2 separate regions of the Homo sapiens genome follow, and region 1 is linked to region 2. Evidence: fine-mapped expression QTL. A gene starts in region 2. The other region holds a variant in brackets. All regions are shown on one strand. Distances are between the middles of the regions. Region 1 overlaps TANGO2 (transport and golgi organization 2 homolog). Region 2 holds the start of DGCR8 (DGCR8 microprocessor complex subunit).

Region 1 (16,486 bases), 35 kb before region 2:
ATCAGTGGCACCTTGGGTGCACTCCCAAAGCCCAGCGTGTTCCCCATCTTCCTGCACTGCATTCGGGATGGTTCTGCATCATCAGCTGCACCTGATTGCTCTTAAACCCACAGCTGAGCTTTAATGTGCAGTCACTGAAGCTTTCATTTCTAAAATAGCTTCCTAAGAGTTCTTTTGGCCAGGCATGGTGGCTCATGCCTGTAATCCTAACACTTTGGGAGGCCGAGGTGGGTGGATCACCTGAGGTCAGGAGTTGGAGACCAGCCTGACCAACATGGAGAAACCCCGTCTCCACTAAAAATACAAAATTAGCTGGGCGTGGTGGCGCATGCCTGTAATCCCAGCTACTCGGGAGGCTGAGGCAGGAGAATTGCTTGAACTCGGGGGGCGGAGGTTGCGGTGAGCCGAGATTATGCCAGCCAGCCTGGGCAACAGGAGCAAAAACAAAACAACAACAACAAAAAAAAACCGAGTTCCTTTTGCTGCTTTGTAAACCCAGTTTGCTCTTCATCACTTCCTTTGCCCTGCAGATGTTTCTGAGCTGTCTGTTTTCTTTCTGCCATCAGAGCATGGTTGGTTGATGATGCATGTACGGTTATCTTTCTGCTGGTTCTTGCTCATGGTGCTTCTTTCATTATGTGGTTCTTTCTGACTATGTACTGCTTCTGGTCTTTGAAAAATGATTTTGAGACTTCTTTGAAGTATAGGATGAAGGTATCTTTCTCCAGAGAGAACTTCAGGCACAGGGGCACTACGAGTGCTGGAACCCCTTAAAACTGTGCTTGGCTTGTGGGTCCTTGTACCCCCAGTGTGGACCTGGACGGCTGGCTGTGCCACAGCTTCTCAGAAACTTCCCTTCACTTATGTGCAATGTCCCCATAACCCCTGGGGGTGGCTGCGGCTGTAGTTCATCTCTCCCTAAGCATCGCTCTTTGGAGTCCCAGCCTAACTTAGAGGAGAGTCTTCTGTTAGGTTCTTCATCCTGTGGGGGTGACTGGACCTTGTCTTCTGTCTCCTTCGCCCCCGAGGCCACCAGAGTATGAGCCCCAGTGTGTTCAGTGGGCAAACGCTCTCAGGCAGGATTGGCCACTGTGTTCTGCTGTCCTCTGTGGGCCACGCTCTCCGAACTGTTGGCCAAATGCTGCATGAGCTCATCAGCTCCTGGCAATTTTTAAGATGTTTTCATATTTCATCCAGCATCTTGAGTTGTTTTTACCAAAAGGATTGCCCCTAGTAGCCTGCCCACCCTCGGATGATGGCCCCCTGTGGGCGCTTCCAGGGCACCCGGCAAGGGGACCCAACCCACTTCCAGCCCCACAGTCTGCTTCCCACAGGGCCCCCTTGCAACAACACACCCTTTAGCTTCCCATCCTATGCAGAGTGGTGGCCAGCAGACCATCTCAAATGGCTGCCCATCCCCCTGACCCAGTGCGTCTGCACGTGGCGCTTATTGCTATCCCAATACTTCAACTGCACAGCCACCAGCTCCTCACTGGAGCAGATGGTCCCCAATGGCCATCCCTAATGCCCGTGCCTATGGAGGCACATACACTGAGCCCTCTTCACCTCCGTCCCCACTCATTAGACTTTTCTCAGAGGAATCTTTTTGGGTCTCTTCAGTATTTGAACAGCTTCTTGGCTGTCCCATGTCCCAGCTGTGAGCACTGGCTCTGCCCTGGAGCCGTGTCACTAAATCATTGCACATGTGCACATTTCAGGGAACTTGGGTGTCACCCTTGGGTGGCCTCGGAATCTAATCTCCGTTCTGCACTCGTTTGCATTGTGGAAAACTGCCTGCTCTGGGCCCCAGAGGTCCCTGGGTGGGGACGAGGTGTATGCTAAGTGTGCAGTCACCCAGCGTGTCCCCGGCACGTGTCCATGCCAGCTGCTGTGGGTGTGTGGGGCCTTCGGGTCCTGTGGGATGGCGAGTGTGTGTGCTGAGCAGGACCTGTAGGGCCTGCATCCCAGGTGAGTGGGCCATGCTGTTGGAGGCGGAGGCAGGGCTGCCCCCACTGGTGGCGTGTGGGGTGGGTTTGGTGCTGTTGCAGGGGAGGAGATGTGCATGTGGGGGACAGTCTTGAAGGAAGAATGTATACAGTGGTCTATTTCCAAGACAAAGTGTCTTAAATTGGCTTAGCTCAGCAAACTACAGAAGAAACAGGATATACTAGGCCACCCTGCTTGGATAGCTGATGTGTGCTTGTCGGCCTCCACTTTCCCCGCACTTAGTTGCCTTCACCCGAACCAAAGAAGTTCAGTCTAAGCTGAAAGTTTACTAGCCTGCAAAATAGCTCATTTTGTCTGTTCTTATCAGCCTGCCTGCTACTTAGGTCGTAAGTTAAATACTTAAAAAGTCCCTGAGCTAACTAGGACTGCAATGCATTGTGGGCTGCAACAAAATACAGCAAGACAAGCCCCCAAAAAAACACCTGAAGCCCCTACCCAACAATTAATAGGCGACGTCCGGGAAAATTGTGACCCCACAGTACTCGGCCTATGAGGAACTGGGGGAGGGACCTGCGTACTAGGGGATAAATTGCTTGTCGAAACTGTGCTGGGTGTGCCTGTCTGACACCTGATCTTGCAAGACTGTCATTAAAAGTCTCACTTTCGCTGTTCTCTGGGTCTGAGTTCATTCTTTAGATTTGGATGGGTAAGTTTGTTTCTCACAGTGTGGCTCCTGCCCTCACTTCTGCTGCCCCCCGGGGACCCCCTCGGCACCCCAGCTCGGTGTGTCCAGGCCTTAAGACTACCATGGTGCTGATGGGATGCTTCTGTTCAGGGCTGGTGTTGCAGGTGGTGGAGAGACAGTCTGGCCAGTGCCAATGAGTGCATGGGTTTGGGAGTTGTTTGTGTGGCACCGGCCAAGAGTGTGGTGTCCAGTTCCCCCACACCCAGCAAGTAGTACAGACACCACAGAGGTGGTTCTCTCTGTTCTGGCCTGTTGCAGGTTCGGAGGGCAGCCCTGAGTGTCTGCCATCCGCTCAACTCAGTGTTTTCCTTTTCCCGCAGACCTCGCGACCTGTGTCAGCAGAGCCGCCCTGCACCACCATGTGCATCATCTTCTTTAAGTTTGATCCTCGCCCTGTTTCCAAAAACGCGTACAGGTAACCCCCTCGCTCTGCATCTGCTGCGCCCTGCAGGGTCCTGGGTGCCCAGCCAGTTCTCATGCCACCCAAGCTGCTGTGTGCAGGAAGGTGTGTGGGCCAGGACGGGGCTGCACAGGCCTGGCACTGCCCTCCAGGACAGGGTCACTCAGTGTGGGATGCTGTCAGAATGCCTCTCGGGGCGGGGACTCCAGTCAATGTACAAAGACGTGAAGACTCAGCCACAGAAGGCAGCCACAGGTAGGACAGAGGAGTGACATGGGTCCAGGTGGGCTGCAGTTCTATGGGCTTTGAGGAGGGTCGGGCGGCAGAACTGGGACAACGGCGTCAGTGAGTGAGAGCCAGCTTGGGCTGGCGGGTCACAGCTGCTGGTGAGAAGTCAAAGTGGCGGCCAGGCTAGGGGTCTGTGGGTGGGTCCTGAGCTGAGGAAAAAGAACCTGGGGAAGAGGGGACGCTGAGGACCAGCCAGAGGAGTCAGGAAATCGAGGCCAGAAGCCACCCCTGACCCTGGACTCAGGACGGCCACACCTCCATTCCCCAGGACACCCCAGCATTTATCCACACAGAGAACGAGGCAGAGATATAACCCACATCTAAAATGAAACGTGTAACCACTCTCTAATGCAACTGCTCGGGAAGTTTTCATCATTTTAAAATCTGTACCAGAAATGATTTGAACCATTTCAAGAGGGTCTCAGATTTGAGTCACTGCAAAGTTGCATAGACACCATGCTGCTTGACTTCAAGGCTGAGTGAAGTCATTTCAGGCCAAGGAATCAGGAAGGAAGGGTGTCTGGTGTTTTCCCTTTTTGCAGTTGGGTGAGTGGCAGGTCCCAGCAGCAGACAGCATGCTGCAGGGAAGGTGGAAGAAATGTTAGGAAAGAACTATTGACTGCTACAGGGACTGGAGTAGTGTTGGGCTGGCTAGTGAGTGAACAGAACTCTAAAGAATGTAGGGGCTGGCCGAGCACGGTGGCTCACGCCTGTAATCCCAGCACTTTGGGAGGCCAAGGTGGGCGGATCACAAGGTCAGGAGATCCAGACCATCCTGGATAACACATCTCTACTAAAAACACACAAAAAAATTAGCTGGGCATGGGGGTGGGCGCCTGTAGTCCCAGCCACTTGGGAGGCTGAGACAAGAGAATGGCGTGAACCTGGGAGGCAGAGCTTGCAGTGAGCCGAGATTGCGCCACTGCACTCCAGCATGGGCAACAGAGCGAGACTGCATCTCAAAAAAAAGATGAAGGTAAAATAAGGTCATGTGGGTAGGCCCTAATCAATGTGATGGGTGACTCAGATACGCACAGGGGAAGCTGGTGTGTATACAGAGATAGAAGCAGTCGTCTGCATACCGAGAAGACCCTCAAAAGGAGCCAGCCCTGCTGACGCCTTGATCTTGGATCTCCAGCATCCAATGCTGCGAGACAATAGTGTCTGTTGTTGCAGCCGCCTGGTCTGTGGTGCTTAGTTACGGCAGCCCCAGGAAACTAGCACGCTGAGGAGAGCCAGCCAGCTCTGTATGCGTTTCAGGGCTGCCTCCTGCAGGCTGCTGAAGAGACTCAACCCACCCCGAGTGCTCCCATCTCTGGAAAGGAAGCTTGATGGCTGGCCTGCGGGTGCTGGTCAGTGCCACCCAGCCCCTTGGGTGGAGAGGAGGAGGGTTGACATGGGCCCCTCTTGCTTTCACTCAGAACCCGTGTGTTGCTGCCAGGACCTGTCCTGCGGGTCCTGCCATTCCAGTTGGCCTCGGGATTTCTCTGGACTATTTTCCGAAGCCCTAAGCCAAAGACGAAATGTGCCACCTCTGGGTGACTGAGCAAATGTGCGCTGTGTTTTCCTGACTTCATGGGAGGGTGTGAGACACTTCTGGTGGCTGCTTCTGCTCTGCCTGTGGGGTGTCCAGCCAGGGGAAGGGCACGCTGCAGGCTGGGAGCACAGACACTTCTATGGAGCCCCTGACAGCACCTCTGCAGCACTTTGGGAGGCCTCGTACAGGTACCCAGCTAGGCTGGGCTGGACTCCTCACCTGTGGACTGGAGTAAAAAGTAGGGTGCTTTAGGCCACTATGTTTTTTTTTTTTATTATTATTATTATTATTTTAGAGACAGGATCTTGCTCTGTTGCCCAGGCTGGAGTACAGTGGTATGATCATAGCTTACTGCAGCCTCAAACTCGCCGGCTCAAGCGATCCTCCCACTTCAGCATGCCTAAGTAACTGGGACTACAACACCATGCCCGGCTAATTTTTTTTTTTTTGGTAGAGACAAGTTCTCACTATGTTGTCCAGGGTGGTCTCGAACTCCTGGGCCCAAGTGATCCTCCTGCCTCAGCCTCCCAAAATGCTGGGATTACATGCGTGAGCCACCATGCCCGGCCTCGGCCACTGTATTTGGTAATTTGATACCCATCACGGAAAACCAAGACCCTGCAGCAAGATAACACAATCACTTCATGATGTCACCCTATCTCTTTCAAAACTGCCTGTTTACAGCCGGGTGCGGTGGCTCACGCCTGTAATCCCAGCACTTTGGGAGGCTGAGGTGGGTGGATCACTTGAGGTCAGGAGTTCGAGACCAGCCTGGCCAACATGGTGAAACCCCATCTCTACTAAAAATACAAAAATTAGCCTGGCATGGTGGCGCACACCTGTAATCCCAGCTATTAGGGAGGCTAAGGCAGGAGAATTGCTTGAGCCTGGGAGGCAGAGGTTACAGGGAACTGAGATAGCGCCACTGCACTCCAGCCTGGATGACAGAGTGAGACTCCATCTTAAAAAAAAGAAAAAACGAAAAAAAACCTGCCTGTTTACAGCCCCACGTGATGCCACTTGCTGGCTTCAGCCTAGAGTGGCTGCAGGACAAGCTGTTACTCCATGGGACAGCTTCCATGGGGTCACCACTGAGGGTTTGATCACTGGATCTCAGGCCAGAGTACCTCCTATCTGTCACCAAACTGTCCCCCAGACAGTGCACACACTCACCCCCCGGCAGAACACACTCACCCCCCGAGATGATGCACATACCCCCCGGACAGTACACGCACTCACCCTGCCTAGCAGCGTGGGTGTCAGGTGGTGATGGATAATTAGTGGTTTCAGTTATTGGAACAAAATAAAGCCGAGGTGACTTGCCATCCTCAGGGACCTCACCGTGGTGGGTGCATCCCTGTCTCTCTGGACGTGGGGCGCAGATAGGCTTCTACCCATGTGCAGCCCCACCAGTGATGACTGAGAGAGCTACTTCCTCCTCCCTTTGGGGCTTGATCTGGGTGCTCAGCATGCTGGCTTGTCCCTGAATTATGTATTCAATGAAATCCCTGGCAAACCACCAGCAATTCAGCTAAACATGACTGCTGGAACAAAAATAACCTGGCAATTAATGTTCCTGAGTTATTAGGCAAACATATATAATTGCTCCTTGTTTAAAAACAGACAGCTGAACATCTTAGGACAAAAGTCCATGCTCAGTCAGCTTTTCTTCCTACTTTTCTCCCCTTTATTTTCCCTTTGTAAGAGCATTATGTCAGAATCAGCACCCGAAGCCAACAGCCCCAGCCTGGTTTGGGGCTGGACTGGGATGAGGTGTCCCTGGCTCCCCCGACCCCTGTTCACCTGCAGGGCTGTGGGACGTGGAAGCAGAGGAGGAAGGTATTTAAGAGAGAATGCTGAGCAGAACCACATGGAGCTTGACCCCACCCATAGGGTGGAGGAGCTGTCATCCCAGACCCTGGCACATCCCCACCATAGCACTCAGGGACTGCGGTGTTCCCCCTTCTCCTGCCCGCTGGCCAGGACACAACCAATGGGCACCTACAGGACTGGCCCATCCAGGTCTGGGGCAAGTGCACTGCCTTCTACTAGCACTGTCCAGCCCAGGGAAGGTGGGCTCTCCTGCCATCCCTGCTGCAGAGGTTGGGGGGCACTTCTGCCCAGAAGGGACATGGAGACTTGGGCTGGGTCTGGGTTGAAACATGGCAGTTAGAGGTACAAAGGCTGAGGCTCATCAGGGACAGAGACCACCTCCCCCTACCCCAGGCAGCACATCCCTGAGACCTGGTGCAGCCCTGGGGCCAGCTGGGTGTCAGACCAGGCTGAATGGGGCACCCTGGAGGTGGTAAGGCTTCCATAGCAGACCCCAAGGGCTCTAGGGCATGGCACAGTCCCTGGCAATGACCAAAAGCATTTCCCCAGTTCTGCTGGCAAGAAGCTTCAGGGGCAGGCACTGAGTGGGGGGCACACATGTGCACACAGGTGTGAATGCCTCCAAGGGCATGAATGGTGGGTGCTAGCACCATGTACTTTTTTGTTTGAAATGGAGTTTCGTTCTGTCGCCCAGGCTAGAGTGCAGTGGCACGATCTCAGCTCCCTGCAACCTCCGCCTCCCGGGTTCAAGCAATTCTCTGCCTCAACCTCTCGAGCAGCTGGGATTACAGGCGCCCGCCACCACACCCGGCTAATTTTTTTTTTTTTTTTTTGAGACGGAGTCTTGCTCTGTCACTCAGGCTGGAGTACAGTAGCATGATCTCGGCTCACTGCAAACTCTGCCTCCCGGGTTCACACCATTGTCCTGCCTCAGCCTCCCGAGTAGCTGGGACTACAGGCGCCCGCCACCACACCTGGCTAATTTTTTGTATTTTTAGTAGAGACGGGGTTTTACCGTGTTAGCCAGGATGGTCTCGATCTCTTGACCTCGTGATCCTCCCACCTTGGCCTCTCAAAGTGCTGGGATTACAGGCGTGAGCCACCGGGCCCGGCCTAATTTTTGTATTTTTAATAGAGATGGGGTTTCACCATCTTGGCCAGGCTGGTCTTGAACTCCTGACCTCATGATCCACCCACCTCGGCCTCGCAAAATGCTGGGATTACAGGCATGAGCCACCGTACCCAGCTGTGAGCACCACTTTCACTCCCAATTTTATGAATGTCTGTTATTTCACATTTAATCAGGAGCAAATGTTGTTTTATGAAATTGATGTGCAATGATCAATATGGAAATTATTTTTAAACACTTGTCGGGCTCTCACCACTGCAACTTGGTTTCAGACTCAGATTGTGATGGCAGGACAGCTGAGCTCTGCTCCTTGGAGCTGCCTCTCCGGCACAAGTGCTCAGGGGGTCTTCAGCCATCACTTTTTTTTTTTTTTTAGAGACAGGGCTTCTCTGTTCCCCAGGTTGGAGTGCAATGGTGCAGTCACAGTTCACTGCAGCCTCAAACTCCTGGGCTCAAATGATCCTGCTGCCTCAGCCTCCCCAGTAGTTGGGAATACAGGCATGCACCACCACACCTGACTAATTTTTGTATTTTTTTTTTGTAGATATGGGGTCTTACTTTCTTGCCCAAGCTGGTCTCAAAACTCCTAGCCTCAAGTGATCCTCCCACTTTGGCCTCCCAAACTGCTGGGATTACAGGTGTCATCCACTGTGCCTGGCCCAGCCATCGCTTCTTAGACCCTCAGGTCTAATG[G/A]ACATTGCAGGAACTGACCCCTTCCACTCAGTCACTGCTGTGTCCTTATTTGTTTTCTTCTAATGTCCAAGCTGGGACTTGAAAGTCAGTTTTCTTTCCTCAAGACCAGGGCTCTTAAAGTTTAGATGTCTCTCCTAATTCCAAAAGAAATATTTGTTTGATTAGGCTGGATGTGGTGGCTCACACCTGTAATCCTCCGCCTCGGAGGCCGAGGCGGGTAGATCATTTGAGGTCAGGAGTTCAAGACCAGCTTGGCCAACATGGTGAAACCCCATCTCTACTAAAAATACAAAAAATTAGCTGGGTGTGGTGGCGGGTGCCTGTAATCCCAGCTACTCAGGAGGCTGAGGCGGGAGAATAGCTTGAACCCGGGAGGCGGGAGTTGCAGTGAGCCGATGTCACGCCACTGCACTCTAGCCTGGGTGACACAGAGAGACTCCATCTCAAAAAATAAAAATAAATAAAAATGGAAATATTTGTTTGATTCATAATGCAAAAAAACTAGTAAAACAGTGAAGTTCCCATCCACTCCCAACCAACCCGAGAAATTAACTCCAAAACACACAGAATGGAGCAGCCCTCAGAGGCCCACATGCTGTGCCATTCAATCTGTATCCTTGAGCTCACGCTTCCAAGAGCCCACGGGTTTGTTGTGGGTGTTCCCAGGGCTGGGGACAGATGGACAGAAGGAGGAACAGCCCCCCACCCTCCAGCCTGGGCTCCCGGCATGGAGCCCAGGCTCCATGGTGCCCCTAAGGGCCTGGCAGACCCGTCTCCCGCCATTGAATGGTGTGGATGTGTGTCCCTGCCTAGCATCCTCCTGTTTCCCGTGCGGTCCCAGCTGCAGGCTCCCGAGAGCTCACCTGGAGCCACGGTGCTCCTTCCTCCAGTGTGGGTGCAGCAGGACTGCCGGCTTCCTGCCCTCTCTGAGACTGGCCCTTGTTGCCACTGAGGCCAGTTTTGTGTGTGAAAAGAGAAAAAGACTTGGCTCGCTCGTTTCCATCTGAAGCCATCAGTGATGCTTTCCTCTTGCAGGCTCATCTTGGCAGCCAACAGGGATGAATTCTACAGCCGACCCTCCAAGTTAGCTGACTTCTGGGGGAACAACAACGAGATCCTCAGTGGTGAGTCTTCCTGCGTGCTCAGCGGTGGCTGCGCCTTGTTGCTTCCCTAGCCCCTGCGTGGCCCGAGTGACCCTAACTGAGTGGTGCTGCTTCCAAGTGTGATGGCGGGGTGTAGAGGTGGAACTGATGGGGCTCGTGGTCGGGGCCAGCCCCAGCACCGGGCATTGCCAGAGCTGCCCACCCAGCACTGTCTGCGTGGCTTCCTGTGCCATGCGTCTGCATGGGGGCCCCATCATGTGAAAGCATCAGTTGGTTTTATATGGATCCCTCCTTTTTGCTGAGGGCATGTGGGTGGATTTGTGTGATGTACAGATCCACACTCAGTCACTTTGTGAAGCAACCCAGTCATATGAGTGTGTGCATGCGTGTGTATGCGTGCGTGTGTGTGCCTGTGTTTGTGTTTCTGTTTGTATATGAGCACCCTTGCTTCAGGGATGGTGGGGCTGAGTTTGGGAAGCTGGTGGTGCTGAAGCCCCGTCACCTGCACCATGCCTGTGTTGCATTAGGTGTACTTATAGGGCAGAAGTAGGGGTGAGAACCAGGTCCTCCCCACCAAAGATACCAGCCTCATTGAAGTCCTGTTGGACAGGAACCAGTTCCTGCCCATGGGGTGGTGGGAGTCTACCTGGAAGGTGCGCATAGATGGCTGGTGAGGCCACGGGTTACTCTGCCTGCGTACCAGGCGCCAAGTGGGCCCGAGGCATCCTGGCATGCTCCAGGGTGCCCACTCAGGCCAGATGTGTGACCTCGTGGGCCCATGGAGGCTGTGTGTGCCCTGTGCTGCCTCCCAGGCCGGGAGGGCAGGTGTTGGGATTATAGGTGTGAACCCAACACTTAAGGAGGCTGAGGCAGGAGGATTACTTGAGCCCAGGAGTTCAAGACCAGTCTGGGCAACATGGTAAAACCCTGTCTCTACAAAAAAAAATACAAAAATTAGCCAGGCGTGGTGGCATGTGCCTGTGGCCCCAGCTACTCAGGAGGCTGAGGCTAGAGAATTGCCTGAGCCCGGAAAGCAGAGGTTTCAGTGAGCTGAGATTGTGCCACTGCACTCCAGCATGGGTGACAGAGCGAGACCCTGTCTCATTCAATCAGTCAATCAATCAATCAAATAAAAGCTCAGCTGTGGGGTTTTGTGAGGACTCCTGTGTAGGCCTGTGGCCTGGCAGTAGTGTGAGAATGCTGCTGAGGCTGGGTGGTCCCGGCACCGTGTGGGAGGAGGACGGGTGCATGGAGACTGAGGCAGGGTGGTCCTAGGCCTGCTGGTATAGGAGGATGCAGTGGGTGCAGGGCTGGTCAGGACGGGTGGGTGAAGGCACAAGACTGATGTCCTTGGAAGGTGGAAGGTTTTCATAGATGAAGATGTGGCGGCTCAGAGGGTTACCCTCTTCTGGTTCCTTGACTATTGTGCCCTCCTGGGCTCCATCCCACCCTGGCACCCAGGTCTGTCAGCTGCCTCTGAACTAGTGCCAACCCCAGCAGCTCCAGTCTTGTGGAATTGTTCACCCCTGTGGTGTTTTGATGGTGGCAGCTGGTGCATGGATGTACACGGGCTTCTGCCAAGTGTCGGGGTGACCATATCACTAAGGCCCACATCCTCTCACTCTCTGGCGTCACCGGATTGTATGCAAAAGTTTAGGACAGTGGTTCTCCAGGTGTGGTCCTTGGGCCTGTAGCACCAGCTTTACTTGAGAACTTGTTAGAAATGAAATCACCCTGGGCCGGTGGCTCACACCTGTAATCTCAGCACTTTGGGAGTCCAAGGCAGGAGGATCCCTTGAGGCCAGGAGCTTGAGACCGGCCTGGGCAACGTAGTGAGTCCCTGTCTTTACAAAAAAAAAAAAAAAAATTAGCCAGCTGTGGTGGCATATGCCTGTTGTCCCAGTTACTCAGGAGGCTGAGGTGGGAGGATCGCCTGAGCCTGGAAGGTAGAAGCTGCAGTGAACCGAGACTGAGCCACTGCAGTTAGCCTAGGCAACAGAGTGAGACCCTGTCTGAAAAAAAAGAAAAGAAATGCAAATCAAAATCATTAAATTCATAAAAATTTGGCCATCACTTCTTTTTTTTTTTTTTTTTTTTTGAGATGGAATTTTGCTCTTGTTGCCCAGGCTGGAGTGCAATGGTGCCATCTCAGCTCACCGCAACCTCCATCTCCCGGGTTCAAGCTGTTCTCCTGCTTCAGCCTTCCTAATAGCTGGGATTACAGGCATGCACCACCACACCAGGCTAATTTTGTATTTTTAGTAGAGATGGGGTTTCTCCATGTTGGTCAGGCTGGCCTTGAACTCCCGACCTCAGGTGATCCGCCCGCCTTGTCCTCCCAAAGTGCTGGGATTAGAAGCATGAGCCATTGCACCCAGCGGCCATTACTTTTTCAAGTAGTTTTTCTGTCTTCTCTCTCACTCTCTCCTTCTCTCCAGTTACACACATATATTAGTTCACTTGCCCTTGTCCCACACCTCTGCGATGCTCTCTGCGTACTTTTCTCGGTGCCCCTAGATCTTGAGGTTTTCCAGCCTGGTGTCTGGGAGCCAGCCCTACTCCCTGCCCTGTGTGAGCACTGGTGGTTCTTGCCCCAGTGTCATATAGTCTCCTCCCTGAGATGCTGATCAGACATTCTCTGTGTAGCTCCTTCCTCTCTGGACTTTTGTGCCACTGTCTTAGTTCGTTTGTGTTGCTCTAAAGGAAAAAGCTGAGTCTGGGTAATTTTTTTCTTTTTTTTTGAGATAGGGTCTCACTCTGTTGCCCAGGCTGGAGTGCAGTGGCACAATCCTGTCTCACTGCAGCCTCTAACTCCTGGCCTCAAGTGATCCTCCCACCTCAGCCTCCCTAGTAGCTGGGACTACAAGTGCACATCACCATGCCCAGCTAATTTTTAAAAATAATTTGTAGCGACAAAGCCTTGCTGTGTTGCACAAGCTGGTTTCAAAGTCCTGGCCTGAAGTGACCCTCCTTTCTTGGCCTCCGAAAGTGCTGGGATTACAGATAATAAGCCATGGTGCCCAGCCAAGGCTGGGTAATTTTTTTTTTTTTTTTTTTTTTGAGACAGAGTCTTGCTCTGTCGCTTAGGCTGGAGTGCAATGGTGCGACCTTGGCTCACTGCAACCTCCACCTCCCAGGTTCAAGTGATTCTCCTGCCTCAGCCTCCTGAGTAGCTGGGATTACAGGCACCTGCCACCACACCCTGCTAATTTTTGTATTTTTGTATTTTTTTATTATTATTCTTTAAGTTCTAGGGTACATGTGCAGAACGTGCAGGTTTGTTACATAGGTATACATACATGTGCCATGTTGGTTTGCTGCACCCATCAACTCATCATTTACATTGGGTATTTCTCCTAACGCTATCCTTCCCCCAGCCCAATTTTTGTATTTTTAGTAGAGATGGGGTTTCACCAGGTTGGCTGGGCTGGTCTCAAACTCCTGACCTCAAGTGATCCACAAGGCTGGGTAATTTATAAAGAAAAGAGGTTTATTTGGCTTAGAGTTCTACAGGGGACCTGAAGCACAGTGTCAGCATCTGCTTCTGATGCAGGCCTCAGGAAGCTTCTACTGATGGTGGAAGGGGAAGGGGAGGTGGTATGTGCAGATCACACACGGAGGGAGGAAGCCAGAGAGAGGGAGGAGGCGCCACGCTCTTTTAAACAACCAGTTCTCAAAGGAACTAATAGAGCTAGAACTCATCACTGTGAGGACAACACCAAGCCGTTCATGAAGGATCTGCCATTAGGTAGATCTGTCTCCCATTAGACCCCACCTCCAACACTGGGGATCAGTTTTTTGGTTTGTTTGTTTTTTTTTTTTTTTTTTGAGACAGAGTTTCACTCTTGTTGCCCAGGCTGGAGTGCAATGGCACGATCTCGGCTCACCACAAGCTCCGCCTCCAAGGTTCAAGCAATTCTCCTGCCTCAGCCTCCTGAGTAGCTGGGATTACAGGCGCCTGCCACCATGCCCAGCTAATTTTTTGTGTTTTTAGTAGAGACGGGGTTTCACCATGTTGGTCAGGCTGGTCTCGAACTCTTGACCTCAGGCAATCCACCCGCCTCAGCCTCCCAAAATGCTGAGATTAGAGGCGTGAGCCACCTCACCCAGCCCGGGGATCAGATTTTAACATGAGGTCTGGGGGACAAACATCCAAACTATGGCAGCCATGAACTCTGGTTGTCTTAGTTTCCCCAAACACTAAGCCCCTCTTCTCAGCTCAGGGAGTCTGCTGAATTCGGCCTGGTCCCCCCACTCCCTGGGCTGGGTCCTGGAGCCTCTCTAATCATGGGCTCACTTTGTTTCCTGTCTGTCATATCCTTTTTTGTAAAACCCATTTGATATGGTTTGGCTGTGTCTCCACCCAAATCTCATCTTGAATTATAGTTCCCCAAATCCCCACATGTCCTGGGAGAGACCCAGTGGGAGGTAATTGAATCATGGGGCATTACCCCCATGCTGCTATTCTCATGATAGTGAGTTCTCATGAGATCTGATAGTGTTTTGTTTTTTTTTTTTTGAGACTGAGTTTCGCTCTTGTTACCCAGGCTGGAGTGCAATGGTGCGATCTCGGCTCACTGCAACCTCCACCTCCCAGGTTCAAGCAATTCTCCTGCCTCAGCCTCCTGAGTAGCTGGAATTACAGCCGCTTGCCACCACGCCCAGCTAATTTTTGTATTTTTAGTAGAGATGGGGTTTCACCATGTTGGCCAGGCTGGTCTCGAACTCCTGACCTCAGGTGATCCGCCTGCCTCGGCCTTCCGAAGTGCTGACATTACAGGCATGAGCTGCCGCTCCCAGCCAAGATCTGATGGTTTTATAAGGGGCTTTTCCTGCTTTGCTTGGAACTTCTCCTTCCTGCCACCATGTGAAGAAGGACATGTTTGCTTCCCCTTCTGCCATGATTGTAAGTTTCCTGAGGCCTCCCCAGCCATGCTGAACTATGAGTCACATATCTTTCCTTTATAAATTACCCAGTCTCGGGTATGTCCTTGTAGCAGCATGAGAATGGACTAATAAATACACCATTGTTTCTTGAGTTTTATTTATTTATTTATTTTTTGGTTGTTTTATGCAGGAGGGTAAATCTGGTCCTTGTTGCTTGGGCAATTTGGAAGTTTTGTTCTTGTTTTAATTATTGATTTGTAAGAGTTATTTACCCATTCTGGATATGAGTCCTTTGTGCCTACTCATTTCCTTAATGATAGCTTATGGTGAGCAGAATTTTTTTTTTTTCTTTTGAGTGGGTGGAGTCTTACTCTGTTGCCAGGCTGGAGTACAGTGGTGCGATCTCAGCTCACTGCAACCTCCGCCTCCCAGGTTCAAGTGATTCTTCTGCCTCAGCCTCCTGAGTAGCTGGGACTACAAGCATGCACCACCATGCCCAGCTAATTTTTGTATTTTTAGTAGAGATGGGGTTTCACCATGTTGGCCAGGATGGGCTCAATCTCTTGACCTCTTGATCTGCCTGCCTTGGCCTCCCAAAGTGGTAGGATTACAGGCGTGAGCCACTGCGCCCGGCCAGAATATTTCATTTTAACAAAGTACAGTTTATCTTATCTTTTATGAGTTGTTCTTTTTGTGCCTTATCCAAAAAGTCTTTGCCTACCCAGAGGAAAATATATAACAATATTTTCCTCCATTTGCTTCTAGAAGCCTAATTTTTGTTTTTATGTTTGGTCTATGATTTATCTCAAGGTTTTGTACATGGTGTGAGGTAGGGGTTGAGATTTACTGCCTCCAACCCCCAAATCTCTCTAGTTGTTCCAGCATCATTTATTAAATGGATTATCTTTTGCCTAGTTCATTACTATGGCAACTTGGTTGTACATCAGTTGAACATATATGTGTGGGTCTATTCCTGACTCTGTTGTATCCCATTGATCTATGTATCTGTCTTGATGCCAACACCATGCAGTCTATGAGTGCTGCTGCTTTTTAGTAAGTCTTGAAATCAGGCTGAGCACTGTGGCTCACACCTGTAATCCCAGCACTTTGGGAGACCGAGGTGGGCAGATCACCTGAGGTTGGGAGTTCAAGACCAGCCTGACCAACATGGAGAAACCCCGTCTCTACTAAAAATACAAAATTAGCTGGGTGTGGTGGTCCATGCCTGTAATCCCAGCTACTCGGGAGGCTGAGGCAGGAGAATCACTTGAACCCGGGAGGCGGAGGTTGCGGTGAGCTGAGATCACGCCATTGCACTCCAGCCTGGGTAACAAGAGCGAAACTCTGTCTCAAAAAAAAAAAAAAAAAGAAAAAAGAAATCAGGCAATGTGGGTCTGCCTTCTTTTTCGGGACTATTTTGGCCATCCCAGTTCCTTTGCATATGCATAGATATTTCAGCCAGTCTGTTAATTGCTATAAAACGAAAAGCCCCCTGGGATTTTGACTGGGCAGGTTTTGAATCTATGGGTCATGTGGGGAGAAGTGTCACCTTAACAATACTGAGTTGTCTAAGAAGTACCCAGTGAAACAAATAATAACAAGAAGAAACACTGTTGAGGCTGGGCACGGTGGCTCACGCCTGTAATTCCAGCACTTTGGAAGGCCGAGGCGGGCCGATCATGAGATCAGGAGACCGAGACCATCTTGGCTAACACGGTGAAACCCTGTCTCTACTAAAAAAATATGAAAAAATTAGCTAGGTGTGGTGGTGGGCACCTGTAGTCCCAGCTACTTGGGAGGCTGAGGCAGGAGAATGGCCTGAACCCGGGAGGCGGAGCTTGCAGTGAACTGAGATCACACCACTGCACTCCAGCCTAGGCGACAGAGCAAGACTCTAAAAAACAAAAACAAACAAAAAAACACT
Region 2 (14,132 bases):
ATCCTTCTCCGTCACCCAGTCAGTCCCAGGCTGTGTGGGAAACTGGCTGTGGTGGGCAGGTCTGAGGTCTCAAGTCTGACAGGGGCCACTGGAGCCTCCAACTCACCAATCAACCAAGTGTGAGAGGTTGCTTTGGTTGAATGGCCATGTGCTGGGGTCTGACTGGCCCAGCCACAGGGAGGCTGGCATCCCCTAGCTGAGTCCTGGACCCAGACCCTCCAGGGCATGGAGCCCATTGTGAGGTGTCTGGTGCTGAAGTGGTGGGGGAGGCCCGTGCAGGCCTACAGCTTTGTCATCTGCAACATTCCTCTCCCCACTTTCTTTAAACTTTTTCATTTAGAAATGATTTCAATGGCCAGGCGTGGTGGCTCATGCCTGTAATCCCAGCACTTTGGGAGGCTGAGGCGGGTGGATAACCTGAGGTCAGGAGTTCGCGACCAGCCTGACCAAAATGGAGAAACCTTGTCTCTACGAAAAATACAAAATTAGCTGGGCATGGTGGCACATGCATGTAATCCCAGCACTTTGGGAGGCTGAGGCAGGTAGATAACCTGAGGTCAGGAGTTCGCGACCAGCCTGACCAAAATGGAGAAACCTTGTCTCTACAAAAAATACAAAATTAGCTGAGCATGGTGGCACCTGCCTGTAATCCCAGCGACTTGGGAGGCCGAGGCAGGAGAATCACTTGAACCCGGGAGGCAGAGGTTGCAGTGAGCCGAGATCATGCCATTGTCCTCCAGCCTGGGTGACGAGAGTGAGACTCCGTCTCAAAAAAAAAAAAAAAAAAATGAAACCTCGTCTCTACAAAATATACAAAAATTAGCTGGGCATGGTGGCAGGTGCCTGTAATCCCAGCTACTTGGGAGGCTAAGGCAGGAGACTCGCTTGAACCCAGGAGGCAGAGGTTGCGGTGAGCCAAGATGGCACCACTGCACTCTAGCCTGGTGACACGGCAAGACTCCATCTCAAAAAAAAAAATTTTTTTTTCAATTTACTAAAGGATTTAAAAAGTAGAACAAAAAATTCTAGTGTCTTTCACCCAGTTACCCCAAATGTGAATGCCGCACCCAATCACAGAAAAATGATTACAACCAGGAAATTAACACTGATAATGTTAAAGAAAGAATTACTGAATGACATTTGCTAAAGCACTGTAGGGAAGACTTTATTCAGGACCGTCTTGCTAGGTCTAGGGACCACAGGAATGAGATTCTGCAGTGGGGGAGAGAGATTAAGCTCAAGTCCGAATGGGCAAGTGGGAACTGATGATAGCTGAGGAGCAGGGCGGTGGGAGCTGGGTCAGCACATGGAAAATGACTAAGAAGAAACACCCCGGGTGAGGGAGATTCTGGCTACACCAATTAACAGGATTTTTGCTGAAGACAGGCCACAGTGACCGGACATCTTCACCTGGGGGACAGTGTAGGAACGGATTAGATAAGGAGGGTGATCAGATGTCGAGGGTCAGGGGATGCTTCTTGCTAAAGTGACTTTGCAGGGTTCTTGCTCTAAGTGAAATTTACAAGGAAGTGCACAGATGGGCCTAGAAGAAGGTTCAGAAGCCTGGTTTGGCCAAGCAAAGAATCTTTGTCGGTCCCTCCTCTTGTTCAAGGAAAGAAGAGGTTATCTTTCCTTGAATAGTACGAGTCCATTTCCTTGCTGGGCTGCCTTTTGTTCATTAAAGGCCAGCTGAATCATCTGCTGGGACCGGCAGTAGAGGAGATATCCTCCATGGTGTGAGCCATCAGGCGTTGCATGTTGAAGATAAAAGAAAAAGATATTAGTTGGAACCAACTATAAACTCAGTTTCTGAGTTCAGAGGGCAGCTACTCAAGATTTCCAGGTGCTGTGCTTGAAGCATCTTCAGATGGAGTAGGGGCTAACAGACTATCATGGACGGCAGTTTGCGTGTCATGAAGTCTGCCCACAAATTATCTGTTGTGGTGCCATCTTAAAGTTTCTTTCTTTTTTTTTTTAGACAGAGTCTTGCTGTTGTTGCCCAGGCTGGAGTGCAGTGGCGCAATCTCAGCTCACTGCAACCTCTGCCTCCCAGGTTCAAGCGATTCTCTTGCCTCAGCCTCCAGAGTAGCTGGGACTACAGGCACACACCACCATGCCCAGCTAATTTTTGTAATTTTTGTAGAGACGGAGTTTCACCATGTTGGCCAGGATGATCTCAATCTCTTGACCTCGTGACCTGCCCACGTTGGCCTCCCAAAGTGTTGGGATTACAGGCGTGAGCCACCGTGCCTGGCCTAAAGTTTCTATCAAGTTGTCCGGGTTCAGCTTAAAGGGCTTCAGGAAATGGGAAGTTTTAATTTTTAGCGGTTCCAGGCCAGAAGGGTGGGAAAAAAACTGGAAACATCAGTTTAGAGAAAATCAAATATTGGAGGAAACTAGAAGAATTCAGGATCCAATCCAGTTTGTAGGTAAATATCAAAACCTCAAAAACAATGAACAGGGCTAGAATCTGATAATGGGTGCACTATAGTTTTCTTCTGAAACTAATTTTTCTCTATATAGTCACCCCACTTCTATCAAAGATGTTGAAGTAAGACTAATTTGTTTGTAGCTAAGTTTAGGTTGATTAAACTTGGCCTAATTACTTACATAAGTGCCGCAACAATAGTGATTGAACACATAGGCTTTCTTTAAGTTTCCTTTGCTAGGACTTTTTTTTTTTTTTTTTTTTTTTTGTCACGGAGTCTCGCTCTGTCGCCCAGGCTGGAGTGCAGTGGCGTGATCTCCGCTCACTGCAAGCTCCGCCTCCCAGGTTCACTCCATTCCCCTGCCTCAGCCTCCCAAGTAGCTGGGACTACAGGCACCCGTCACTATGCCCGGCTAATTTTTTTTTGTATTTTTTTTAATAGAGATGGGGTTTCACCGTGTTAGCCAGGATGGTCTTGATCTCCTGACTTCGTGATCCGCCCGCCTCGGCCTCCCAAAGTGCTGGCATTACAGGCGTGAGCCACCGTGCCCAGCCTGCTAGGACTTTTAATAAGGCATCTCAGATTGGGCTTTTAAAAGCCTTGCCAGGCTAGGAAGCCAAGCCGAAGCTTCACCATCATACTTCATTTGCAATCATTATAGGTTTGGGTGAATTCCTCTCTTTTTGAGGTCCCCCAAAATATCCTGACATCCTTGGGCCTGTCAGGAAGTGACTTTCCTTACTCACCTACAAGGCAACCACATGACCCATGTATTCAAGGTTTAAAACCCATTTTTCCCCAAGGGCTTTATTGGTTCCATAAAGTCATCTTAGTTACTTAAAGTTGTCTGGCCATAGCTAAAAATATGGCATTCTAGTCAAAGCTTTGGTAATATAAACAGCATTTCCAATTGTGTCCTGTTACAAAGAGAACAGGTTCTTACTGAACTTATGTAAATAACCATATTGCCATTAAAATAAAAATACTCATGAATAGTTTCCGAATTATGGAAGGATAAGGTACAGAGAAAAAGTAATTGTTTCACTTTTGTTTACAAAGGCATACTTTACCAAACTGCTGTAAGCTATGGATAACTTAAAAGAGAAAAAAAAGTTTCCTTAAATCTGGAAAACAAAACATTAAAGAACCAGCAATGTTTCAAACAAAACATAAAAAAATTATCCTGGCTGGGTACAGTGGCTCACACCTGTAATGCTTAGGGAGGCTGAGATGGGAGGATCATTTGAGGCCAAGAGTTTGAAACCAGCCTGGTCAACATAGTGAGACCCTATCTCTACAATAAAATTAAATAAATAAATAATTGTAATTGGTTTATTCATTGCCATGTAATTTATTCTTGTTCTGTTTGATCTTGATCAGCAGTTTCACGAACCCCTCAGTGTCTTCATTCAAGTTCTGGAAATTCTGGCCAGGTGTGGTGGCTCACGCCTGTAATCCCAGCACTTTGGGAGGCCAAGGCAGGCAGATCAGTTGAGGCCAGGAATTTGAGACCAGCCTGGCCAATATGGTGAAACCCTGTCTCTACTAAAAATATAAAAATTAACAGGGCGTGGTGGTGGGCGCCTGTAATCCCAGTTACTTGGGTGGCTGAGGCAGGAGAATCGCTGGAACCCGGCAGGCAGAGGTTGCAGGGAGCCAAGATTGCACCACTGCATGCTGGCCTGGGTGACAGAGTAAGACTATGTCTCAAAAAAAAAAAAAAAAAAAGAGTTCTGGAAATTTTTTTTTTTTTTTTTTGAGACGGAGTGTCAGTCACCCAGGCTGGAGTGCAATGGCACGATCTTGGCTTACTGCAAGCTTCGCCTCCTGAGTTCAAGTAATTCTCCTGTCTCAGCCTCCAGAGTAGCTGGGACTAAAGGCACACACCACCACACCCAGCTAATTTTTGTGTTTTTAGTAGAGATGGGGTTTCACCATATTGGCCAGGATGGTCTCAATCTCTTGACCTCGTGATCCGCCCGCCTCGGCCTCCCAAAGTGCTGGGATTATAGGTGTGAGCCACTGCGCCTGGCCCCAGCCACATTTCTTAAGTAATCAAAAACCTAATAAAAGACAATATGAAGAACAAGGAACTATCTTGATATAACACAAAAATCTTTGTTTCCAAGGTCAATTATTTAAAAGGTAAACAGAGGCCAGGCGAGGTGGCTCACGCCTGTAATGCCAGCACTTTGGGAGGCCGAGGCGGGCGGATTACGAGGTCAGGAGATCGAGACCATCCTGGCTAACACAGTGAAATCCCGTCTCTACTAAAAAAATACAAAAAATTAGCCGGGCATGGTGGTGGGCGCCTGTAGTCCCAGCTACTCGGGAGGCTGAGGCAGGAGAATGGCGTGAACCCAGGAGGCGGAGCTTGCAGTGAGCCGAGATCGTGCCATTGCACTCCATCCTGGGCGACAGAGTGAGACTCCGTCTCAAAAATAAAAAGTAAAATAATAATAATAATAATAAAAGGTAAACAGAAATCTTCATAATCTCAAATACTGTAAGAAAACTTTGTCATTTCAACAGAGAAGATCAAGTTAAAGTTCTGCATCATAGCACTACTAATAAAGCTAATTTTAACAAAACCTTATAAATGAATCCATCCAATCTCATGCAAGATAATATTTCTTTTCCAAGATTTCTTTTCTATAGATCTTTTACAACTTAAAAAAAATATCTGGCCGGGCACGGTGGCTCATGCCTGTAATCCCAGCACTTTGGGAGGCCGAGGCGGGTGGATCATGAGGTGAGGAGATCGAGACCAGCCTGGCTAACACGGTGAAACCCTGTCTCTACTAAAAATATAAAAAATTAGCCAGGTATGGTGGCGGGCAGCTGTAGTTCCAGCTACTCGGGAGGCTGAGGCAGGAGCATGGCGTGAACCCGGGAGGCAGAGGTTTCAGTGAGTCGAGATCTTGCCACTGCACTCCAGCCTGGGTGACACAGAGAGATGCCATCTCAAAAAAAAAAAATCTATCAGTACTTTTTTTCCCCTACATTTTTTTTCTTTCTCATTCTGGAACAACCAGTTGCTATATATATTAGCACAGAGTCAGTTATTCCTTTAAGGGATTTTATAAATTAATTTGGTGCTACTATCTGGAGGTAGAAAAATATCATGTATATATAACATACAAACATACATATGTAGTTGCTCTGCAACTGAAGTTGGCAGAGGCCAGACCCAGTGGCTCACGCCTGTAATCCCAGCACTTTGGGAGGCCAAGGCAGGCAGATCACTTAAGGCCAGGAGTTTGAGACCAGTCTTGCCAACATGGTGAAACCTGGTCTCTACAAAAATACAAAAAAATCAGCTGGGCGTAGTGGCGTGCGCTTATAGTCCCAGCTACCTTGGAGACTGAGGCAGGAGAATAGCTTGAACCCAGGAGGTGGAGGCTGCAGTGAGCCGAGACTGCGCCACTGCACTCCAGCCTGGGTGACCCAGTGAGTCTCTGTCTTAAATAAATACATAAATAAATAAACAAACAAATAAATAAAGTTGGCAGAGTATATAGTCTGAAGGGGTTTGAGGAAAGGGGATTCAGGTGACTGAGAAGTTCCGATGGGAGAAGTAGGATCCAATAGAGAGAACAGAGAGGCCTCACAGTGGGAAGAAAAGACTGCCAGCCCAGGAGTCAGGGAGTGAATCCCCATTCAGAATGAAGAGCCACAAGGAAGACCTTCCAACCCAGGAAGTATTATACCTTTCAAAAGAAGGCTGGGACCTTAAAAATCAAAATCTGTCCTTACCAGCTAAAATAAAAGTTTTTCTACAGTCATGGCTCAGGAGTTTGACTCACCAGTAGATCCCCAATCAGCCAGTCAGAAGACAAAGGCTGCAAAGTTGCACATTGAGAGTCCTGGGTCAGAGGCCTGTGGCACCACAACCATTAAAGAAAAAAATTATTCAGCCCTTGTCAAAGCACGGTCGGGAAGGCCTTATTCAGGAGCATTGCCACTGGCATATGGACCACAGGCAATGGGGTTTTGCTGCAGGGGAGAGATTGGGCTGAACTCTGAATACAGCATGGACAAGTGTGAACTGATAGCCAAGGAGCAGGGCGGGGGTCAGTGGATGAAAAATTACTAAGAAGAAACATAAGTGATAAGGGGGATACTGGCTAAGCTGACCTAAGAGGATTCTTGCTGAAGACAGGCTGGGGTGATCAGACATCACCTAGAGGATGGTGGAGGGATGAGGAATTTCATCAGTATTGAGGGCGATCAGATATCAAAAGCAGGGTGGTTCTTGCTAAACTGGAATTCTCAGACGGGCCTAGAAGATTTAGGAGCCTGACTAAAGTTTGGCCAAGCAAATAATCTTTTGTCAATACAACAACACGATACTTTTTACTGTTTGTTTTTTTTTTTTTTTTTTTTTTTTTTTTTTTTGAGACAGAGTCTCCTGCTGTCTCCCAGGCTGGAGTGCAGTGGCGCGATCTCAGCTCACTGCAACCTTTGCATCCCGGGTTCAAGCAATTCTCCTGCCTCAGCCTCCCAAGTAGCTGCAACTACAGGTGCGTGCCACCATGCCCGGCTAATGTTTTTGTATTTTTAGTAGAGACGGGGTTTCACCCTGTTAGCCAGGATGGTCTCGATCTCCTGACCTCGTGATCTGCCTGCCTCAGCCTCCCAAAGTGCTGGGATTACAGGCGTGAGCCACCGCGCCAGGCCAATACAATAGTATTAACTAATCTACAGACCTTGTTTGAATTATATCAATTGTCCCATTAATGTCCCTTTTCTGAGCCAGGATCCCATCTATCGTCTGGATTCCACACTGCATTTTGTTATCTCTTTTAATTGAAGATGGCTCCTCAGTCCATCTTTGACTTGAATGATCTCGATACTTGAAAAGCACTGGCTGGTAATTTTGCAGAATGCCCCTAATTTGGGGTTTGTCTGCTCTTCATTCAGATTCTGCCTTTTGGGCAAAAATACCCACAAGTGAACTTGTGTTCTTCTCAGGAGGTCCACAGTATGTCCTCTTACTGGAACTAACTTTTTTCATTTCTATTGAGGCAGAATTTATATACAATGCAATACACATGTTTAAATGGTACAATTTGCTAAGTTTGCTGGTGACCTTGATGGCTTGGTTAAAGGTGGTGTCGCCCAAGTTTTCTTCCACTCTAAAACTACTATTTTCCCTAGGCAATTAGTATCCTGGGGGAGAAACTTTGCAACACTGAAAACAAAACAAAACCTGTTTGTCATGTTTTTGCCCACTATTTTTTTTTTTTTTTGAGATGGAGTCTCACTCTGTCACCCAGGCTGGAGTGCAGTGGCGTGATCCCGGCTCACCACAACCTCTGCCTCCCAGGTTCAAGTGATTCTCCTGCCTTGGCCTCCCGAGTAGCTGGGACTACAGGCACGTGCCACCATGCCCAGCTAATTTTTTTTGTAGTTTTAGTAGAGACGAGGTTTCACCATCTTGGCCAGGATGGTCTTGATCTCTTGACCTCGTGACCCACCCGCCTCGGCCTCCCAAAGTGCTGGGATTACAGGCGTAAGCCACTGTGCCTGGCCTAATTTTTTTGTAGGGGGTTGGGGGCCGGGGACCGAGTCTCGTTCTGTTGCCCATGCTGGAGTGCAGTGGCTGGATCTTGGCTCACTGCAACTCCTGCCTCCCAGGTTCAAGCAATTCTCCAGCTTCAGCCTCCGTAGCTGGGACAACAGGCACCTGCCACCAAGCCCTGCTATTTTTTTTTGTATTTATAGTAGAGACAGGGTTTCACCATGTTGGTCAGGCTGGTCTCGAACTCCTAACCTCAAGTGATCCGCCCGCCTCGGCCTCCCAAAGTGCTGGGATTACACGCATGAGCCACTGTGCCTGGCCTTGCTCACTATTTTTTCTGGAGACGGTCTCGTTCTGTCACCCAGGTTGGAGTGCAGTGGCCCGATCTCAGATCATTGCAACCTCCACCTCCCGGGTTCAAGCGATTCTCCTGCCTCAGCCTCCCGAGTAGCTGGGATTACAGGTGCCTGCTACCACGCCTGGCTACTTTTTGTATTTTCAGTAGAGATAAGGTTTCGCCACGTTGCCCAAGCTGGTGTGGAACTCTTGAGCTCAGGTGATCCGCCTGCTTCGGCCTCCCAAAGTACTGGGGTTACAGGCGTGAGCCACAGGGCCCGGCCCACTATTTTTATCACTCAAGATTTTCGTCTACAGCAGCTATTATTGGGGTGGCTACCCAGTGGAAAATTTTTCTATTTCCACTATTCCTTCCACATTTATTGACAGGAAAGCTAGTCTAAGGAAGAGCTGTACCCTCACTTACTCAGACCCTCGTTTTCCTTTTTTTTTTTTTTTTTTTTGAGACGGAGTCTCACTCTGCCGCCCAGGCTAGAGTGAAAGTGGTGCTATCTCGGATCACTGCAGCCTGGAACTCCTGGACTCAGGTGATCCTTCCACCTCAGCCTCCCGAGTAGCTCGGACCACAGGCGCCCGCCACCACGCGGCTAATTAAAAATAATTTTGGGCCCGGCGCGGTGGCTCATGCCTGTAATCCCAGCACTTTGGGAGGCCGAGGCGGGCAGATCAATTGAGGCCAGGAGTTTGATACCAGCCTGGCCAACATGGTGAAACCCCGTCTCTACCAAAAATATAAAAATTAGCCGGGCGTGGTGGTGGGCGCCTGTAATCCCAGTTACTCGGGTGGGTGAGCCAGGAGAATCGCTTGAATCCGGGAGGCAAAGGTTGCAGTGAGCTGAGATCGCGCCACTGCACCCCAGCCTGGGAGACAAAGCGAGACACCGCCTCAAAAAAAAAAAAAAAAAGAAAGAAAATTTGTAGATACTGGGCTCTCACTATGTTAGCCAGGCTGGTCTCGAACTCCTGGGCTCAAGTAATCCTCCTGACTCGACCTCCCAAAACTCTGGGATTACAGGCGCAAGCCACCGTGCCCGGCCGAACCACCGTGCCCGGCCGAACCCTCCCTGTTTTGGAAATCCTGTATTAGCAAAGGGGACAGCGCCAGACAGTTGAGCACACGCGTTCTTTATAAATGATGATGTCTGATACAGTGATGCTTTTAACAGGGTTGTGTAACGCCTGTGTGTGCACGGTCTCTTCTGCAGTGTCCACCGAAGGTGGCCCGTCTGCGTGTCCGCTCCCGGCGTACTCCGCGCTCCCTGTTCCCGGCATTCCCCGCGCTCCCCGAGCTTCCCGCGCTCCCCTGCTCCCGGCATTCCCGGTGCTTCCCGTTCCCGGCGCTCCTCGCGGCCGCCGCCCTCAGTCCAGCGAGCCCCGCCTGGGCAGCGACTGTTAGCGCGACCGCGGCCTGGGCGCCTGGTCCCTCCCGCGCGGCCGCGCTATTGGGCCGCGCGCGGCGGACACACGCGCTACGCGCCGCCGATTGGCGGCCTCCGCAGCGCGCTCTGCGGCTCCCCCAATGCGGGGCGGCCGCGCGCGGGGATTGGCCGCACGCCGCGAAGGCCCGCCCTCCGCTCGCCCGGCGCGGCAGGCGGGTGCCGGCGACCGGAGAGCCTGGACAGGCTTTCCAGATGGCTGCGGCGGTCGGTCGGTGAGGCTTTCCCGGCTGTGGTTTGGCTGCGGGCGGCTTGGGCAGCCCGCGGGCGCCTCAGGTAGGTGCGGGGCGCGAGGGGCGCCCGCGGGCGGTTGGGCGGGCGCCGCGGCCTGCGCGAGGGCGCGCCCTTCCCTCCCGCCTCCCTCCGGGACCGAGGCCGCGGGCGGGGCGGGGGCGCGGAGCCCGGCCTTTGTGAGGCAACATGGCCGCGGGCGGTGGAGAGCGCGGGGTGGGGACGCCTCCGGGGCTGGGGGGCGGGCCCCGGGCCCAGGCGTTGCCGACTCTCGTCGCTGTCCGCCCGGGTAAAGAGGCTCCTCTCCCGGAGGGCCCGAAGCCTAGCATCGCCTTCAGGCGGGAAAGGTGTGGACAGGGCCAGTGCTCGCCTGGGACCCTGCCGGCTTTAACACAGTTTGGGAAATCCAAGAAGTCGCCTAAGTCTTTTTGTCCACAGAATGCTCACGGGTTGAGTGTCACGTAGATAATTGGGATACGGTTTTATTGTAACAATGAGCATGGCGGAAATAAATGGAAGGTGGCAACCTGTTGACAGTGATGCCTGTCTGGTGTCAACCGATGGACTTGGGTTTCTTGTGGCAGGAGTCTGATTTGCCTTTTTGCATGCTTGCATGTACCTTGTTCCTGCACGGCAGTCCTGTCTTTGGCTGTCGACTGTTCGAGGCCAACCACCAGGCGAGGATCCACTGTTTCCTGGCCAGACTAGACTCCCAGCTGTGGGAGTGGCCCAAACCCTGCTGCAGGCCTTCACTCACAAAAGGGAGTGAATGGCCAGCCCGGGGTACCCAGTGTTGCCTCTAAGTGCGGGATATGAGGCCTGTTGGAGGATGACAAAAGGAACGGATGAGGTCATACTGCCGCTGGGTTGGGCGGGAGGCTGCAGCGGGAGAGACTTGACCAAAAGGCAGCCTCCATGGCGCTGGCACTGGTGCTGGCCCGTCACAGCCAGTGCCTCTGTTAGCCAACACAGCAAGTGGGCTAGGAGGAAGGGTGCTGTCCAAGTGTACGGGTTTTCTCCCCGTGCCAAGGGTCCAGGGGAGCTTGCCGTGAGCCCGTTCCTGTCCGATAGTCCTGTTGGCAAGGCAGGGTTTGCATGCGGTGTTTGGTCAGCTGGAGCAGTGGGGAGGCCTACGGGCAGAGAGCTCCCCTTTGAGCCCTTTGCGGCCAGGCGCTGTGTGGAGCACTTCCCAGGGGTTGTTTTGTAGTCTCACCGTGACCTTGGGGTAGGAAATGTGCTTCTGGCTGGCTTGCCCAGTCTTAGACTCTCTTGTTGTAGCCCTCTCCTTTGTGATGTCACCCAGCCTCCTGACTTTAATGCCAGCTTTCCTTGACATCTTCACAGCTCCAGCCCTGGCCTCTCTTCTGATTTCCAGCCTGGTGTTTCTGGCCACCTCTTCCATATCTCCATGTGTTACTTTGGCGCCAAGTAGCCATATCCAAACCAAACTCAAATCTTCACCCATGCCAAAACATTCCTTGGCCTATCTAAAGTCCCTTTGATTCCTCTCTTTCTTACACCTTCATGCAGTCCTAAGGAGGCCCCGTCAGCTCACCTATTTCTAAGCACAGACCATTTCTCACCACCTTCAAGTTAACATCCTGGCCCAGCCTACCTGGTGAGCCTCTAATTCTCTTTACTGTCACCTTAGGTCCTCACTCCCCATCCACCATCTATAGTTTTTCTGGACACAGAGTGATTCTTCTTTCTTTCTTTTTTTTTTTTTTTGTTTTTTTGAGACAGAATCTCGCTCTGTCGCCCAGACTGGAGTGCAGTGGCGTGATCTCAGCTCACTGCAACTTCTGCCTCCCGGGTTCAAGCGATTCTCCTGCCTCAGCCTCCCAAGTAGCTGGGACTGCAGGCGTCCACCACCACCACGCCCGGCTGATTTTTGTATTTTTAGTAGAGACGGGGTTTCACCATGTTGGCCAGGCTGGTCTCGAACTCCTGGCCTCAAATGATCTGCCTGCCTCAGCCTTCCAGAGCGCTGGGATTACAGGCGTGAGCCACTGTGCCTGGCCACAGAGTGATTCTTTTTATTTTTTTGAGACAGAGTCTCGCTTTGTTGCTCAGGCTGGAGTGCAGTGGTGCGATCTCCCGCTCACTGTAAGCTTCGCCTCCTGGGTTCAAGCCATTCTCCTGCCTCAGCCTCCCGAGTAGCTGGGACTATAGGCGCCCACCACCACACTCGGCTAATTTTTTGTATTTTTAATAGAGACGGGGTTTCAATGTGTTAGCCAGGGTGGTGTCGATCTCCTGACCTTGTGGTCCGCCTGCCTCAGCCTCCCAAAGTGCTGGGATTACAGTCGTGCACCACCGCGCCCGGCCCAGAGTGGTTCTTTTAAACCATAAGATGGTATAAAACAGAGGCGGTGTAGATGCAAGCCAGCTTGCCTGCTTGTAAAGCAGCTCCATCACTTCCTGGCTGTATGACCTTGAGCATGTGGGTGAACCTTTCTTCCATAATGCTATGTGAGACCTGGGTGAGTTAAAATGCTTAAAGTGCTTAGAACAGGGCCTGGCTGAGGTTTGGTTGCCACTGCTATCCTGGAATCAGCTGATGCCACTGTGTGGGCCTTCCTATCCGGTGGCCCATCTCTCTCACTAAGAGCCAAAGTCCTGGCAGCAGCCTGGGAGGACCAGCCCTGATCCATCTGCCCTCATGGACTTGGCCCACTGTCACGTCCCCTCAGCACACTGCCCCAGCTGGCCACACCACATTCCTGACCCCAGCCCTCTGCTTTTCCTCTCAGTGTCACCTGGAACATCCCCTCCTCCCAGCCCTGTAACCCACCTGGCTCACTCCTGCCTTCACGTGGATGCAGGCCATGAGGCCTTCTTGGATCCCCCTTCCTAAAACTGCCTCCCCTTCTTCAGGCGCTTTCCTTGTTTTGTTTTTGCTTGAATACTTCTTGGCATGTGACAGGGTGCATGCTTTTCTTAGTTGTTAGCGGTCCATCTCCCCCACTAAAATGTGAGCTCTGTAGGGCAGGGTTTTGTCCACCTTGTGTCTGTAGCATCTAGGATGGTGTGTGTGTGTGTGATGAATGGAGAAAGCTTATAGAGGGGAGGAAGGAACTTGCCCAGGACTGCCCACCACTGAGGTCTGGGGCTGGGCAGGTTTCCTGCTTTCCTAAGGAGCTCACTCACTTGTAAGGCACCAGGCTTTCCTGCTGTGCATTTCTTCAGTGCCGCCGCTTGGCCCCATTAGCACCTTTGCTTGGAACGTCTACTCTAGCTGCTTCTTCGCCTTCTGTGGTAGCAGGCTTCCCCATTCCGTCCCACTGTTGGTCTCTAATCCCCTGCTCCTTGTGGCTTCTTCATGTAGCTTTTTGTGTCCCAGAATCATGGATTGACTCACCAGGGTCTCTATGGGACTGCCAGGTTCTGAGGTGTGTGGCCCTGGTCTTCCTTGTAATCTGTGGCACTGGGCGCATTGACCCCTCGGTCTGTTTTCTCTAATGGTCTTTCTTGGTTGCCAGGAGACTGACCTCACCCCACTTAGTGTTCCTCATGCCTGCCTGGTTGCTGCCCACAGCCTCTTGAGCGTCTTCAGCACTTTATAGTCAGTTGTTAGCTCTGTGCTGTGTTTCCTGGATCCTCAGCACCTTTGATGGACACATCTTTGGGAACATACGGTGTGAAATTCCCATTAGATTCAGAAATGTTAGGACATCTTAGAATCCAGGAAATGGGGTGACAGTGCAGTGGTCATTGACCTGCCAGTGTGTCCAGGCCCTGTGACCTTGTCTCTTGTCCATATAGTGCGTTCCTCGGAGTAGATGGCCAGTGGATAGTTGTTAAATGTATTGATTAAACCTAAACTAGTCTCTGGTTTTCATGTTGTGTCCCCTTCGAAGTACATCCACCATGCCTTGTCCCTTGTTAAATGTGTGATGTCTGCATCTCCTGTTCTTTCCGGGAATCTTGGGAGGATGTTAGGTCATGCAGTGCGGTTTGCATGTGTGCATCTTTACTGGTATGCACGCATGTGCATGCATGCGTGTTCCTGTGCACGTTGTGGGAGTGTGCATGTGCGTGTGTCTGCATGTGTTCCTTCTGCTCTGATGCAGGGTTTTCTGGCTGCCCCCTCAGACCCATCTTCCCTGCTTCATGTTGTCCCTTTCTTCATGCTTCCTCTGTAGTAAGGCTTCC

Evidence for each region. PIP is the estimated chance that this variant, and not a neighbour inherited with it, causes the effect.
Region 1: its variant is fine-mapped to the expression of DGCR8 in whole blood (INTERVAL, PIP 0.96).

The regions. Positions count from the first base shown.
Region 1 is chr22:20,033,748-20,050,233 of GRCh38, forward strand. It overlaps TANGO2 (transport and golgi organization 2 homolog), which reads left to right. Exons shown (of 9, transcript NM_152906.7): 2 at 3,013-3,107; 3 at 9,608-9,696. The coding sequence starts at 3,052. Among named protein-coding and RNA genes, the nearest start is that of MIR185, 8.9 kb to the left of the region's middle. RefSeq lists an enhancer at 440-509 and a silencer at 4,799-4,960. The variant G/A (reference allele first, on the strand shown) is at 8,573.
Region 2 is chr22:20,070,362-20,084,493 of GRCh38, forward strand. It overlaps DGCR8 (DGCR8 microprocessor complex subunit), which reads left to right and starts at 9,880. Exons shown (of 14, transcript NM_022720.7): 1 at 9,880-10,022. RefSeq lists a silencer at 9,759-10,378 and enhancers at 10,639-10,698, 12,803-13,421.